Regions from separate parts of the Homo sapiens genome. Here regions 1 and 3 are each linked to region 2. The links come from fine-mapping of genetic effects on gene expression. A gene starts in region 2. Each other region holds a variant in brackets. All regions are shown on one strand. Distances are from middle to middle.

Region 1 (4,242 bases), 140 kb after region 2:
ATCTTCCTGGCCTATGATAGGAAAAATCTCATTTTGCATGGGAAAAGACAATCAAAAGAGACCAATGATGAGATGTTGGAATTAAGTAACAAAGACTTTAAAGTACTACTATGAAAATGCTCCAAGTAAACCCTCTTGGAATGAATGGAAGATGGACAGTCTCAGCAAAGAAATAGGAGATATAAAGAATAGGGAAGTAAAAGTTTTGGAACTTAAAAATATAAGGGCCAGGCATAGTAGTTCATGCTATAATCCCAACACTTTGAGAGGCCAAGGCAGGAGGATAACTTGAGCCCAAGAGTTCGAAGCTAGCCTGGGCCACAAAGTGAGACCCCGTCTCTAAAAAAAATAATAAGTTAGGTGTGTTGGCATGAACCTGTGGTCCTAGCTACTTGGAAGGCTGAGATGGGAGGATAGCTCAAACCTGGGAGTTCGAGGCTGCAGTGAGTCGTGATCACACCACTGCACTACAGCCTGAGTGACAAAGCAAGACCCCGTCTCAATAAATAAATAAATAAATAAATAAATAAATAAAATATAAGAACCAAAATTTCAGTGCTCACTAGGTAACTCAAGAGCAGAATATAAATGAGAGGAAAGAGGAAGCCAGTAACTGGAAGACAGACCAACAGAAATTATCCAAACAGAAAAACAGTGAGAAAAAGATTTTTAAAAAGTGAATAGAACCTCAGAGACTAGTGAGACAATACCAAAGGTCTAATATTTATGTCATTAGAGTTCCAGAAGGAAAGAAGAAAGAGTGCAGTGAAGATAAAAATGTTTGAGGAAATATTGACTAAAAACATCTTCAATTTGGAAAAGGACATAAAACTGAAGAATATATGTACATATATATATATATATATACACACATACATACATATAAGCATACATGTACCATTGCTAGAGAAAAATGACACATCACACATAGGAGAACAATTCAAATGACTTCAGCTTCCTCATGAGGAGAGAGGAAATCTCATCGTAGAGACCAGTAGGAAGTGGAATCACATCTTTAAAATGAAGAAAAAGAACCATCAACCCACCATTCTCTTCACAATTTCAAGAATACTCAATGAAAATATGCTTCAGGAGTGAGAGTGAAATAAAGACGTTTTCAGATGAAGGAAAACTAAGAGAGTTCTTTGACAACAGACCCGTCCTAAAATAATTGCTACAAGAAGTTTTTCAGACAGATGAGAAATGATACCAGAAGTTAACTTGGAATATCAGGAATGAAAAAAAGACCAACAGAAATGGTAAAGATCTGAGGTAATGCAACATTCTGTGCTGCTCTTGAGTTCTTTAAAATACGTTTTATGGTTAAAACAAAAATTATAACATTTTTTGATGGTGTTTTCAATGTTATATGTAGATAGCACATAAGACAACTACAACATAAAGAGGGTAGAATAAAAGAAACTAAAGTTTTACATTACACTTAAAATGGTAAAATATTGATTCTAAGTAGACCATGAAAAGGTAAAGACGTATATTGTAATCCCTGGAGCAACCACTAAAAACAAAAACAAAAACAAACAGAACTATACAAGCAGATAAAGTTAAAAACACAATAAATGTCCTTAAAATGGTAGACACAAATCCAACCATATCAGTAATTCCATTAAATGTAAATGATCTAAGAATGGTATCAGCAAAAATGGAATAGAGAACTCCAAAACTCCTTTTTCCATAAAAAACAGTGAAAAAAACTGGCAAAATCAACTTTATTAGAACTCTGGAGACTAATAAAAAGTTTAATAAATAAAATAAATTCTTTTTTTTAATAAAATAAATTCT[T/G]TTTTTTTTTTTTGAGGGAGAGTCTCATTCTGTTGCTCCGGCTGGAGTGCAGTGGTGTGATCTTGGCTCACTGCAACCCCCACCTCCTGGGTTCAAGCGATTCTCCTGCCTCAGCCTCCTGAGTAGCTGGGATTACAGGTGCCCTCCACCATGCCCAGCTAATTTTTGTATTTTCAGTGGAGGCAGGGTTTCACCATGTTGGCCAGGCTGGTCTTGAACTCTTGACTTCAAATGATCCACCCACCTCAGCCTCCCAAAGTGTTGGGTTTACAGGCATGAGCCACAATGCCCAGCCAATAAATTTTAATCAAGAAGAAAAACGGCTAAATCTCAGTGGGAAAACACTGTGGTGTTTTAACATACCTGGGCTCCATTCTCCTCTTTCCCAGCTTGGTGGCAGCCTTGAAGACAACAGCCTGCATTCTTGATATAGGTTCTTAGTGTTCGAGGGAGCAGAATGGAACTTACTCTCAAAGGATTGTGGTTGCCTGTTTTGACCTGTCTGTTGGTTCCCTGAAGGATGAGCACAAAAGATTTACTTTAATTTCACCTAACTTAGAACTCTCCCAGGGCTGAAGCAGCTACCTGGGGCATTTGGAAAAACAAACAAACCACACACACATGCACAGAGTTAAAAACAAATGCATTCACTAATGGTAACAGTTAGGGAAATAATAGACAAACCAAAAGCTTAAGAAAAAAGGCTGGAGAAGGAAACACTTTAAGAAATAAGGGCTTTAAAAAGCTTTCTGGATATCTAAGAAGGTCACACATATGCTCAGAAAATATCCTAGAAGACTCTACACTCTCACCTCTGACTGACCTCCAGACTCTGCAAGCAGAAAAGGAAGGTTAAGGCAGAGTTGTAAACAGCCTGGCTAAGTGTTAAAAGCCACACCTCAAAACACATACAGAGCTCATCTGAAGATATTGGGAATTTTTTTTTTATGTTGTTCTAGGTATAAAGGAAATTTCAGTCATCACTAGCCAACCACTAGTGGAAAAGTTTAATGGAAAAGTCTTTTCAGTGGCCACACGTGACAAAGAATACAGACTTTAAAAAATTAGTTCAGAAAGGTCACTAAGTAAACAACAACAACAACAACAACAACAAACAAAAACAACTAGCAAACAATGACAACAAACCTGAAAGGGGAGCAGAATGTGATTTCCAGAGTTGTCACATTATAACAGTAAAAATGTCCAGTTTTCAACAAAAAAAATTACATGCCATGAAAAGACAGAAAAAAGTATGGTTCATACGCAGCAAAAATAATTAATAGAAACTGTCCTTGAGGAAGCTCAGGAATTGAACTTAATAGATTAAGATTTTAAATCAAGTATTTTTAAATGTACTGAAAGAGCTAAAAGAAACCATATGCAAAGAACTAAAGGAAAGCATGAAAACAGTGTCTCGCCTAATAGCAGATTTCAGTAAAAGAATAGAAATTATAAAAAAGGACTTAGAAATTTTGAGTTAAGAAGTAAAATAAGTGAAATGAACAATGCACTAGAAGGGGTCAACAGCTATGTGAGTAGGCAAAGAATGAATCAGTGAATTTGAAGACAGGTCAATTGAGATTACCCAGTCTGAGGGACAGAAAAAAGAATGAAGAAAAACAAATAGAGCGTAAGTGGCCTGTGGAATACCACTGATGGTACCAACATATGCATACCAGAAGACCCAGGGGGAGAGGAAAGAAAGAAAGGGGATGAAAGAATATTTGAAGAAATAATGGCTCAAAACTTCTCAAATTTGGTAAAAGTAAAGGATATGAATTTACACATGCAAGAAGCTCAACAAACCCCAAGTAGGATAAACTCAGATATTCATATTGTGATACATTATAATCCAATGGTCAAGATAAATACAAAGAGAGAATCCTGAAAGCAGTCAGAGAGAAGTGATGAGTCATATACAAGGATACTTAATGTGATTAATGGCTAATTTCCCATCAGAAACCACAGAGGCCAAAAGGCAATATGATGACATATTCAAAGAGCTGAAAGAAAAACTGTCAACCAAGAATTCCATATGTGGCAAAACTATTCTTCAAACATGAAGGAGAAGTTAAGACATTCCCAGATAAACAAAAACTAACAGAGTTCTTTGCTAGTATGCCTGTTGTACAAAAGTTGCTAAAGGGAGTCCTTCAGGCTGAAATGAAAGAACACTTGTGATGATTAATTTTATGTGTCAACTTGACTGAGCCACAGGGTGCCTGGATGTTTGGTCAAACATTATTCTGGATGTTTCCGTGAGGATGTTTACAGGTGAAAATAACATTTAAATTGGTACACTGAGTAAAGGAGATTACCCTCCCTAATATGGGTGGGCCTCATTCAATCAGTTAAAGGCCTAAATAGAACAAAATGACTGACCCTTCCCCAAGTAAAAGAGAGTTTCTCCTGCCTGCCTATCTTTGAACTGGGACATTGGCT
Region 2 (4,242 bases):
TTGGTCTGGACAGAGGTCAACATTCTTCTCATAAAAGCTTTCATTTCTTTTGAAGCATTAAAATAATATTTTAGCACACAAAAAAGGAGTTTATTTTCAAGAAGCTTTGCTTTCTTTTTCAGTTAGTTCTAGATAAGAACTATAACTTCACATAAGATGTTAGAAGGATTTAAGTACATTGCTGAAGGTATAACCATCCATCTTCAGGAAGTAAGAATAGTGAATAGTAAGTATAAAGAAACAAACAAGTCCTGTGATAACATCTTTATCATAATTTTTTTAAGTCTATTATGCTTTATGCAAATGTTTAGATTTCCTTGTTAAAAATCTGCTGGCCAGGTTAGGTTCCCTTTCTGTAGCTTTATTTTCAACTCATAATATAGTGACTATTAAATATTCTTTACTCAACACATTATATTGTAAAAATATACACTTAGTTCTGTTTCTATCACTAAGCCACTACTATTTTAAAAAGGAATATCTTGCATTGTTAAGTTTAGCAGCCCAAATTCTTAAAGGCCTTAGGAATGGTGCTGTCCAATAAGATAACCAATAGCTACATGTGGCTACTGAGCACTTAAAAAATGAGTCTGGCCAGGCATAGTGGCTCACGTCTGTAATTCAGCATTTTGGGAGGCTGAGGTGGGAGGATTGCTTAAACCCAGGAGTCTGAGACCAGCCTGGGCAACACAGGGATGCCTTGTCTCTGTAAAATAAAAAAAATAAAAAAATTAGCTGGGCACGGTGGCATGTGCCTGTAGTCCTAGCTACTCAGCAGGCTGAGGCAGGAGGCCCACTTAAGCTTAGGAGTTCAGGGCTGCGGTGAGCTATGATTGTGCCACTGCACTCTAGCCTGGGTGACACAGTGGGACCGTGTCTCCAATAAATAAATGAATAAATAAATATTAAAAAATAAAAAGTGTGGCTAGTCCAAATTGAAATGTGCTGTAAAATACACACTGGATTCCTTTTTTTTTTTTTTTCAAATCCTGAGAACCTGTGAAACACACTGAATTCTTAAGATTTAGTATGAGGAGGGGAAAAAAAGATCAATGATTTACATATAACAATGTAAAATATCAATAATTTCTATATTGATTATATGATGAAATGATCATGTTCTGGATATACTTGATTAAATATACCATTAAAGTTAATTTCATCTTTTATTTTTACTTTTTAAATATGCAGCATTGCCCAATAAAATACAGGACAACCAGTTACATTTTTATTTTATATATTCCTGCTTGGGACATAATATTTAAAAATTATTCATTCTATATCTGAAATTCAAATTTAACTAGGAGTCCTATATTTTTATTTGCTAAATCTGGCAATTTTATTAATATGGCTACTAGAAAAGTTAACATAACAAATGTAGCTCCTTATCCTATGGAACATTGCTGCTTTAGAATCACCTCGCTGCTTTTTTTTTTTTTCCAGTTAGCTTCTGAATAAACTCTGCACGGAAATAACTAATCTGTGGGGAATATTTAACCCTAGGCTAGGATCGTTAATCGTGAAGTTAAATTTTTACATCTGCATGAACAAAATGGCTTGTTACAGACGAAAATGTGGAAAGGGCATCTGGACTAGAATGAAAAGTCATAGCTCCCAGCCTCTCTACTAGGGTAGTTAACAGTCCCAGGTTCAAAATAATCCCCGTCCCTCTTATAAGATTAGGCGGTGTCAAGAGCAACTATCTGTGAGACCCTGGGCCAGTGACTTTCTCCTTACCTCCGCCCCCAAGTAGGCCTTGCAAAAAGCTGGGAGGGGTGCGTTTTCAACACTGGAGCTTCGCGGCCGCTCTCCCACTCGCTCCCCGCCCGGCGCTAGAGGAGCGAGTTCGGACTCGGACCCCAAGGCCTCGAGTCCCGCTGCCTTCCTAAGCCGAGCCCGGGCTACCTCGGTCGTCCCCAGCAGGCTTGGCTGGCAGAGGCCGGGCCTCGCCAGGTCCCCAGGACAGGCCCCGCCCGGGCCTCAGGTGCACTCCCGGCCCGCCCCGCGCCCTCGCGTCCCGCCCCAGCTCCGCCTTCGCCGGCGCCGCTCTGCCTGCCAGCGGGGCGCGCCTTGCGGCCCAGGCCCGCAACCTTCCCTGGTCGTGCGCCCTATGTAAGGCCAGCCGCGGCAGGACCAAGGCGGCGGTGTCAGCTCGCGAGCCTACCCTCCGCGGACGGTCTTGGGTCGCCTGCTGCCTGGCTTGCCTGGTCGGCGGCGGGTGCCCCGCGCGCACGCGCAAAGCCCGCCGCGTTCCCCGACCCCAGGCCGCGCTCTGTGGGCCTCTGAGGGCGGCATGCGGGACTACGACGAGGTGACCGCCTTCCTGGGCGAGTGGGGGCCCTTCCAGCGCCTCATCTTCTTCCTGCTCAGCGCCAGCATCATCCCCAATGGCTTCACCGGCCTGTCCTCCGTGTTCCTGATAGCGACCCCGGAGCACCGCTGCCGGGTGCCGGACGCCGCGAACCTGAGCAGCGCCTGGCGCAACCACACTGTCCCACTGCGGCTGCGGGACGGCCGCGAGGTGCCCCACAGCTGCCGCCGCTACCGGCTCGCCACCATCGCCAACTTCTCGGCGCTTGGGCTGGAGCCGGGGCGCGACGTGGACCTGGGGCAGCTGGAGCAGGAGAGCTGTCTGGATGGCTGGGAGTTCAGTCAGGACGTCTACCTGTCCACCATTGTGACCGAGGTGGGTGCCGGCCCCTGCTGGGGCTGAGACCAGGGCTCGGAGGACCTGTCGCGGTCCTTGAACCCGAGCTCCTCTCTCCCAGATGCGCACTGGACGCTGTCACTCCCCCTCCCCCAACGGTCAACACCCTAGCGATGGAGACCCTCCAGCCAGGTGGCTTGGGAACGCTTCACGAGGTGACCTCCAGCCACAGTGTGCTCCTCCCTGCACAGGTGGTCAGTCTGGCCTCCCGTCCTGATGGCCACTTTGAAGAGGGTACCAGGAAGGTCCTGGCGGTCCCTGGGCGATGCTCTATGGCCCTGTGTGTCCAGGACTTACTCTAGTTGGGGTTGGGGGTGGTAAGTAGCAGAGCCAGGACTTGGGCCAGGGGCTATCCCGTTTTTCCTCTAGTCTCTTGATTTCTTTTTAGAAGAGAAGAAATACTTCTCTTTCCTGAACTTTTAAAAGTTAAATAAAGCATGTGTATACAACTGCCTCTTCCCTTTTTCCTCTAGTTACTCCTTCCCCTACCGTCCACAACCCAAAAACGACAATCTGGTCATGCCCTGTAAGTAATTGTTTGCCTTTTCCCATGGTCAGTTGTCAGTCTTTTTTTTTTTTGAGACAGAGTCTCCCTCTGTCACCAGGCTGGAGCGCAGTCGTGTGTTCTTGGCTCACTGCAACCTTCGCAGTCGTGCGTTCTTGGCTCACTGCAATCTTCGCCTTCCGGGCTCAAGTGATTCTCCTGCCTCAGTCTCCGAGTAGCTGTGAGCCACGACGCCCAGCTAATTTTTGTGTTTTTAGTAGAGACGGGGTTTCACCGTGTTGGCCAGGATGGTCTCGATCTCTTGACCTCGTGATCTGCCTGCTTCTGCCTCCAAAGCTGGGATTACAACCGTGAGCCACCACGCCAGGCCGTCAGTTGTCACTCTTTAAGATCCATTCATCTGAAGATGGGTTCAGGGTGACTTGTTGACCTGGAATATTTTCTCAGGTATTATGAGGCAAGGCTGTCGGCCAGATTTAGTTAAAGCATACAGCCTTAGGTCATAGGGTGTAGGGGAGCCTTTCTCATTTCTCATCCCCTTGGATTTTCCCTCTGGGTGGTTTTGTCTGTCCCCTCCGAACCTGTTGGAGCAGTTGTTGGAGCTGGATGTAGGAACATGATGTTAATGATGTATGTGTTTTGTGTCTTTTTTAGACACTGGCACTCTAGCTCCCTGAAGTTTCAGCAGCATTGAGTAAGTAGCCAGTGAATAGCCCTCATTGATAGATAGGCTCACTAAATGTGCAGATGACCAATTCGCAGGTTAGAGAAGGCTTCCCAGAAGAGGAGGCCTCTCCGTGAGCCTAGGGTGTTCAGCTCAGCATAATAGTGAGCTGAAGGCCCCAGTGCAGCAGCAAGAAACCACCCAGCAGGACGGCGGAGTTCACAGAGAGGGGAGAGTTCATAGAGAGGGAGAGTGCCACAGGCCCTGGCACAGCTTCAAGCCCTGCTGGATGTTGGTGCTGAGCCTCCCCTCCTGGAGCCTCAGAGGGGCTTACAGGGGCTCTGGAGATCCCAACTGTGTTGCTTC
Region 3 (4,242 bases), 92 kb after region 2:
TATAATGCCATTTGGTAATTCAGTACAGCCTCTTCCAACTTGAGAAAGAAGATGCATTTCCTTCCCTCAGTCTTGAGCTGTGCAGGTGTCACGCTGAGCTGCCCTGTGTGGGCTCCATGTTGGCACACATCGGTTGCAAGGGGCTCTGTGTAGTGAGTCTGGAGTTGGACCACTGGCCAGGCGCTGGGATGCTAGTGCCTGGACTGAGTGTGCACAGAGGCCCCTCAGGCAGAGCCACAGTGGGCGCTGAACCTCCTGGTGAAGTTCACCGCAGTAACTAGAGCTCAGTGGGAGGGGCTGGCCTATCAGCACCTGTCCTGTGTGCTTTTTGAAAAGAGCAGGGTCTACCTTCTGTCAACTGAAGTCCTGCCAGCTGCATGGCATGAGATGAGGGACAAAGTGGCACGTGAACAAAGTTGACATTTTGGAGGCTGTTAGGCTCAGAGCCAACCCTGGGCTCCATGTAGTGCCATGACTCATGGATTCAGGCCCATCTTGGAAATTGCTCTGGGCGTAGAGCTCTCATTTCTGATAGTCCAAGTGCAGATATTGGGGTTCCTCTAATTGGCCCAAATGGTGGCCTGCACCAACCAGCGACCAGAGTGCTGTCTGAATCTAGAATAACAGGAAGAACACGCCTCCAGCAGTGTAGGAGAGTTCCCCATGCAGTGTGCTTCCCATTCTTACCAGCAGTTGGTATCTTCTGTCTTTTTCACACTGGCCATCTGAGTCTCATAAGGAGACTCCTCTCCTTCCACTGAGCCTGCATCCCAGCCTCTCCCCTTTCTTCAGGGACCTCTCCCCAGCAATTACGCCCTTCCATTCTCTCAACCAGGGAATCTTCAAACTCTTCTTCTCCACTGGCTCCTGCTGTGCTCCTGTCTCCATCACCTGTATAATGCTTCCTGCCATCCTGCCTTCCCCGTGGAGTACAGCCATGCTGTCTGCTGCTTACAGCCAAGATTCTGGAAAGAAATGTCTCCTTTTTCCTCGTCATCAACCACTCATTTATTCAGCAAGTGTTTCTTTTACACTTGCCTGTGCTGGGCATGGCAGCAATGCAGCAGTGAACAAAACCATCAGCCCTGCTCTCATGCAGCTTATAATCAAGTAGAGAGACAGACATAAATGATTAATAGATGCTCCTGTAATGGTGGTTGTGAGGTGTGCTGCCACAGCCCAGCCACACACGCCAGTTCCCTTCTCTGCACATGTACATGTCTGCTCATCCTTCCCACCTGAACTCATGTGCCACCTCACTTATGCCCCTTCCCAATGCCGCACCCACACAACAGGGTGTCCCTCTGTGCCCACAGCAGCCCTTGGGTATAACTGTTCCCCACAGAGGCTGAACCCCAAGGGCAGAGTCCAGGCCACACTCACCACGGAGACCCCTGCCTGGCACAGAGCCCAGCCCAGCAGAGATGCTCAGAAGATGAATGAAAGTCCCTGCTGAGATTGATCCAATCTGTTTGTGAACATCTCTGGGGTCCAAGAATTCACGGCTTTCTTTTTCTTTAGAGAGCCTTTTGTTTCTTTTTGCCATTATATACTATATTTGGGTTAGGGCACAACAATGTGAATATACTTAATACTGAACTCTACACTTGAAAATGGTTAAGATGGTAAAGTTTTAAGTTATATGTATTTTGCCACAATTTTTTAAAATGCAGAGCATAGGTACAAAGAAGGAAAAAAAGGGGGCAAGGTCCATTTTATTGAGAAATAAAGAACAAAGGGTTCAATTCAGAGAGGATTGGATTTTAAAACGTAATTTAGATTAGGGAAATGCAAATGAAAACCATAATAAGTAAGATACCACTTCACATCTGTTAGGATGGCTATTTTAAAACAACAAAAACAACCTGAAAATAAGTGTTGGCAAGGATGTGAAGAAATAGATACCCTTGTGCATTGCTATTGGGAACGTAAAATCATGCAGCCTTTGTTGAAAACAATGTGGTGGTTCCTCAAAAACTTAGTTATCATATGATCCCGCAGTTCCACTTCTAGGAATATACCCAAAAGAATTGAAAGCAGGGACTCAAAGTGATATTTGTACACCAGTGTTTGTAGCAGTATTATTCACAATAGCCAAAAGGTGGAAACAACCCAGATGTCCATGACA[A/G]GAGGAGTGGATAAACAAAATATGGTGAATATGTACAATGGAACATAATTCAGCTTTAAAAAGGAATGAAATTCTGGTACATGTTATAACATAGATGAACCTTAAAAACATTATGCTAAGTGAAATAAGCCAGACACAGAAGGAAAAATACCAGATGATCCCACTTATATGAGGTACCTAGAATAGTGAAATTCATAGAGACAGAAAGTAGAAGGATGGTTGCCAGGGGCTGGAAGGAGGAAGAACAGGGAGATACTGCTTAGTGGATGCAGAGTTTATGTTGAGGGTGATGAAAAAGTTCTGGAGATGGATGGTGGTGATGGCTGCACAACAGTGAGAATGTACTTCATACTATGGAACTCTGCACTTAAAAATGGTTAAAATGGATGTAGACATTTTATGTCTATTTTGCCATAACAAGAAAGTAATTTGGGTGTATTTTAGAGATTTTAGAAAATACTGTAAGCACAAGAGGAAAAAAATTAAAATCATTCGCAATCACCAGGTAGAGACAACGACTGTTGAAAGATCAGTGTGTATCTTTTCATTCTCGTTCTCTCTCTCAAAAAAGTGTGTGTGTGTGTGTGTGTGTGTCTTCAGATGTCACACTGGACTTTCAGGAAAGGTTCCCCTCTCTGCTGCTTCCCTGCTGGAGCCATGGAGAGCAAGTCTATCCCTGTTCCATAGGTCAATCCTTTGAATGATTTCTCATGGCTGAGTTCACTCCCCTGCACCTCCAGGGTTGCACTTCTCTGAAAATACTCATTTATTTTATGTGTCTACTAAAAACATGGCACCCACGACCCAATAATATGTTGGAAGGGGTTGGAGAGAGAAACGCGAGTACCTCTCACACCTTCTCACACACTACACATCTTAGCGATGGCCGAGTGAGCATGTTGGCTCTCTGGACTCCTCAGTCTGTTGGTCTGGGCTGCGCCAGGCTCAGGCTCCCTGCCTCCCCCCCAACCTTGATCCCCTTGCTTCTTGAACCTGATGCTGGGCCTCACATTCTCCGTTGATTCTAGCTCTTAAATCCTGCTTCTCCAGCTTGTCAGGAGGCTGTGCCCTCACACCCCAAAGAGCAGATCTGCCCTCTCCACTGAGAGGGAAGGAGTGAAGGTCCCACAGCCTCTGACCCCTGCTGGGCCCAAGAGAGGAACAGCTGCTTGCTTTATTTCTCGTGGGAGAAGTGTGTCTCCTCTTTGTCTCAGGCACCCCTCTGCCCTGTACAGCAGCAAGTCAGCAGGAATGAGCTGAGCCGCCCAAGTAGTGGCTCCCTCCACTATGGGGGCTCTGTGGTCCTGGGGGCTGTCCTGCCTCCACTGCCATAGGCCTGGCCCCAGAGCATGCTGCAGTGGTCACAACCTGTGGAGGTGCCCCCAGACCCCCATATTTGGGCCCAACTACAGCCTCCTTCCCCAGCTTTGCCACCTGGCTTGGGAGCCAGGGCACCACCAGCTTCACTGGCAGGGAGAGATGAAGAAAGAGGCCATAGCCACGCAAGTGACTGAAGTTCATGTTCGTGCACACCAATTAGAGAGGGACAGCACGTTCATTTACCTCCAAATCCAGCCACAGACACATCGCCCTTTTCTCTTGGCTCTGAGGCCTCCACAGAAGGGTTTTTTAAGGTTGCAGCCAGGACCTTTATAGCCTAGTCCTGAGAAGATTATCTTTTTATTGCAACTTTGATTAATGATTGATCAAAAACTGATACTAGAAACACTGAAGAACAAATTTGCTGTAGACATTAGGAAAGGTCTACATCTGGCAGGCCTGGAGACCTGCCCACCCTCTCCCCCCACGGTCAAACCAGGGCAAAGGTACATTGGAAGACCCAACCCCTACACACTCTTACACGTGCACTCGCACACACACACTGAGGGGAAAGAAATATTTAATTGTCCTTAAATCCTCTTGGATTAGGCTATAAATTGCAAATAAATGGAGCAACAGACAGAGCAAAAGCACATAAGGTCCTTTAATAGAATTTCTCTATCTTATTCTGTTTCTATGAATGCCTGTTACAAATTAGCAGCTTAAAGGGAAACCTGGAGTGTGGGAAAGAGCGACCCTTGTGTGAAGTCCACAGCCGGGGTTTCCTACAGACC

Which allele goes with the higher level. Alleles are on the strand shown, and positions count from the first base shown. SD is a standard deviation of normalised expression in the study named. Not every link is listed here.
For the expression in Th2 cells of the gene that starts at base 2,237 in region 2, allele A in region 3 goes with a lower level than allele G (moderate effect, 0.73 SD a copy in Schmiedel 2018).

What was found.
Region 1: its variant is fine-mapped to the expression of MIR3936HG in whole blood (TOPMed, PIP 0.97).
Region 3: its variant is fine-mapped to the expression of MIR3936HG in Th2 cells (Schmiedel 2018, PIP 0.95).

What each region holds. Positions count from the first base shown.
Region 1 is chr5:132,506,527-132,510,768 of GRCh38, forward strand. No RefSeq gene overlaps it. Among named protein-coding and RNA genes, the nearest start is that of IRF1, 18 kb to the left of the region's middle. The variant T/G (reference allele first, on the strand shown) is at 1,801.
Region 2 is chr5:132,367,680-132,371,921 of GRCh38, forward strand. MIR3936HG (MIR3936 host gene) reads right to left here and starts at 2,237. Exons shown (of 8, transcript NR_110997.1): 1 at 2,165-2,237. It overlaps SLC22A5 (solute carrier family 22 member 5), which reads left to right and starts at 2,031. Exons shown (of 10, transcript NM_003060.4): 1 at 2,031-2,686. The coding sequence starts at 2,294. RefSeq lists a silencer at 1,914-2,233.
Region 3 is chr5:132,459,727-132,463,968 of GRCh38, forward strand. All of the region lies in intron 3 of CARINH (colitis associated IRF1 antisense regulator of intestinal homeostasis), which reads left to right. Among named protein-coding and RNA genes, the nearest start is that of IRF1, 29 kb to the right of the region's middle. The variant A/G (reference allele first, on the strand shown) is at 2,129.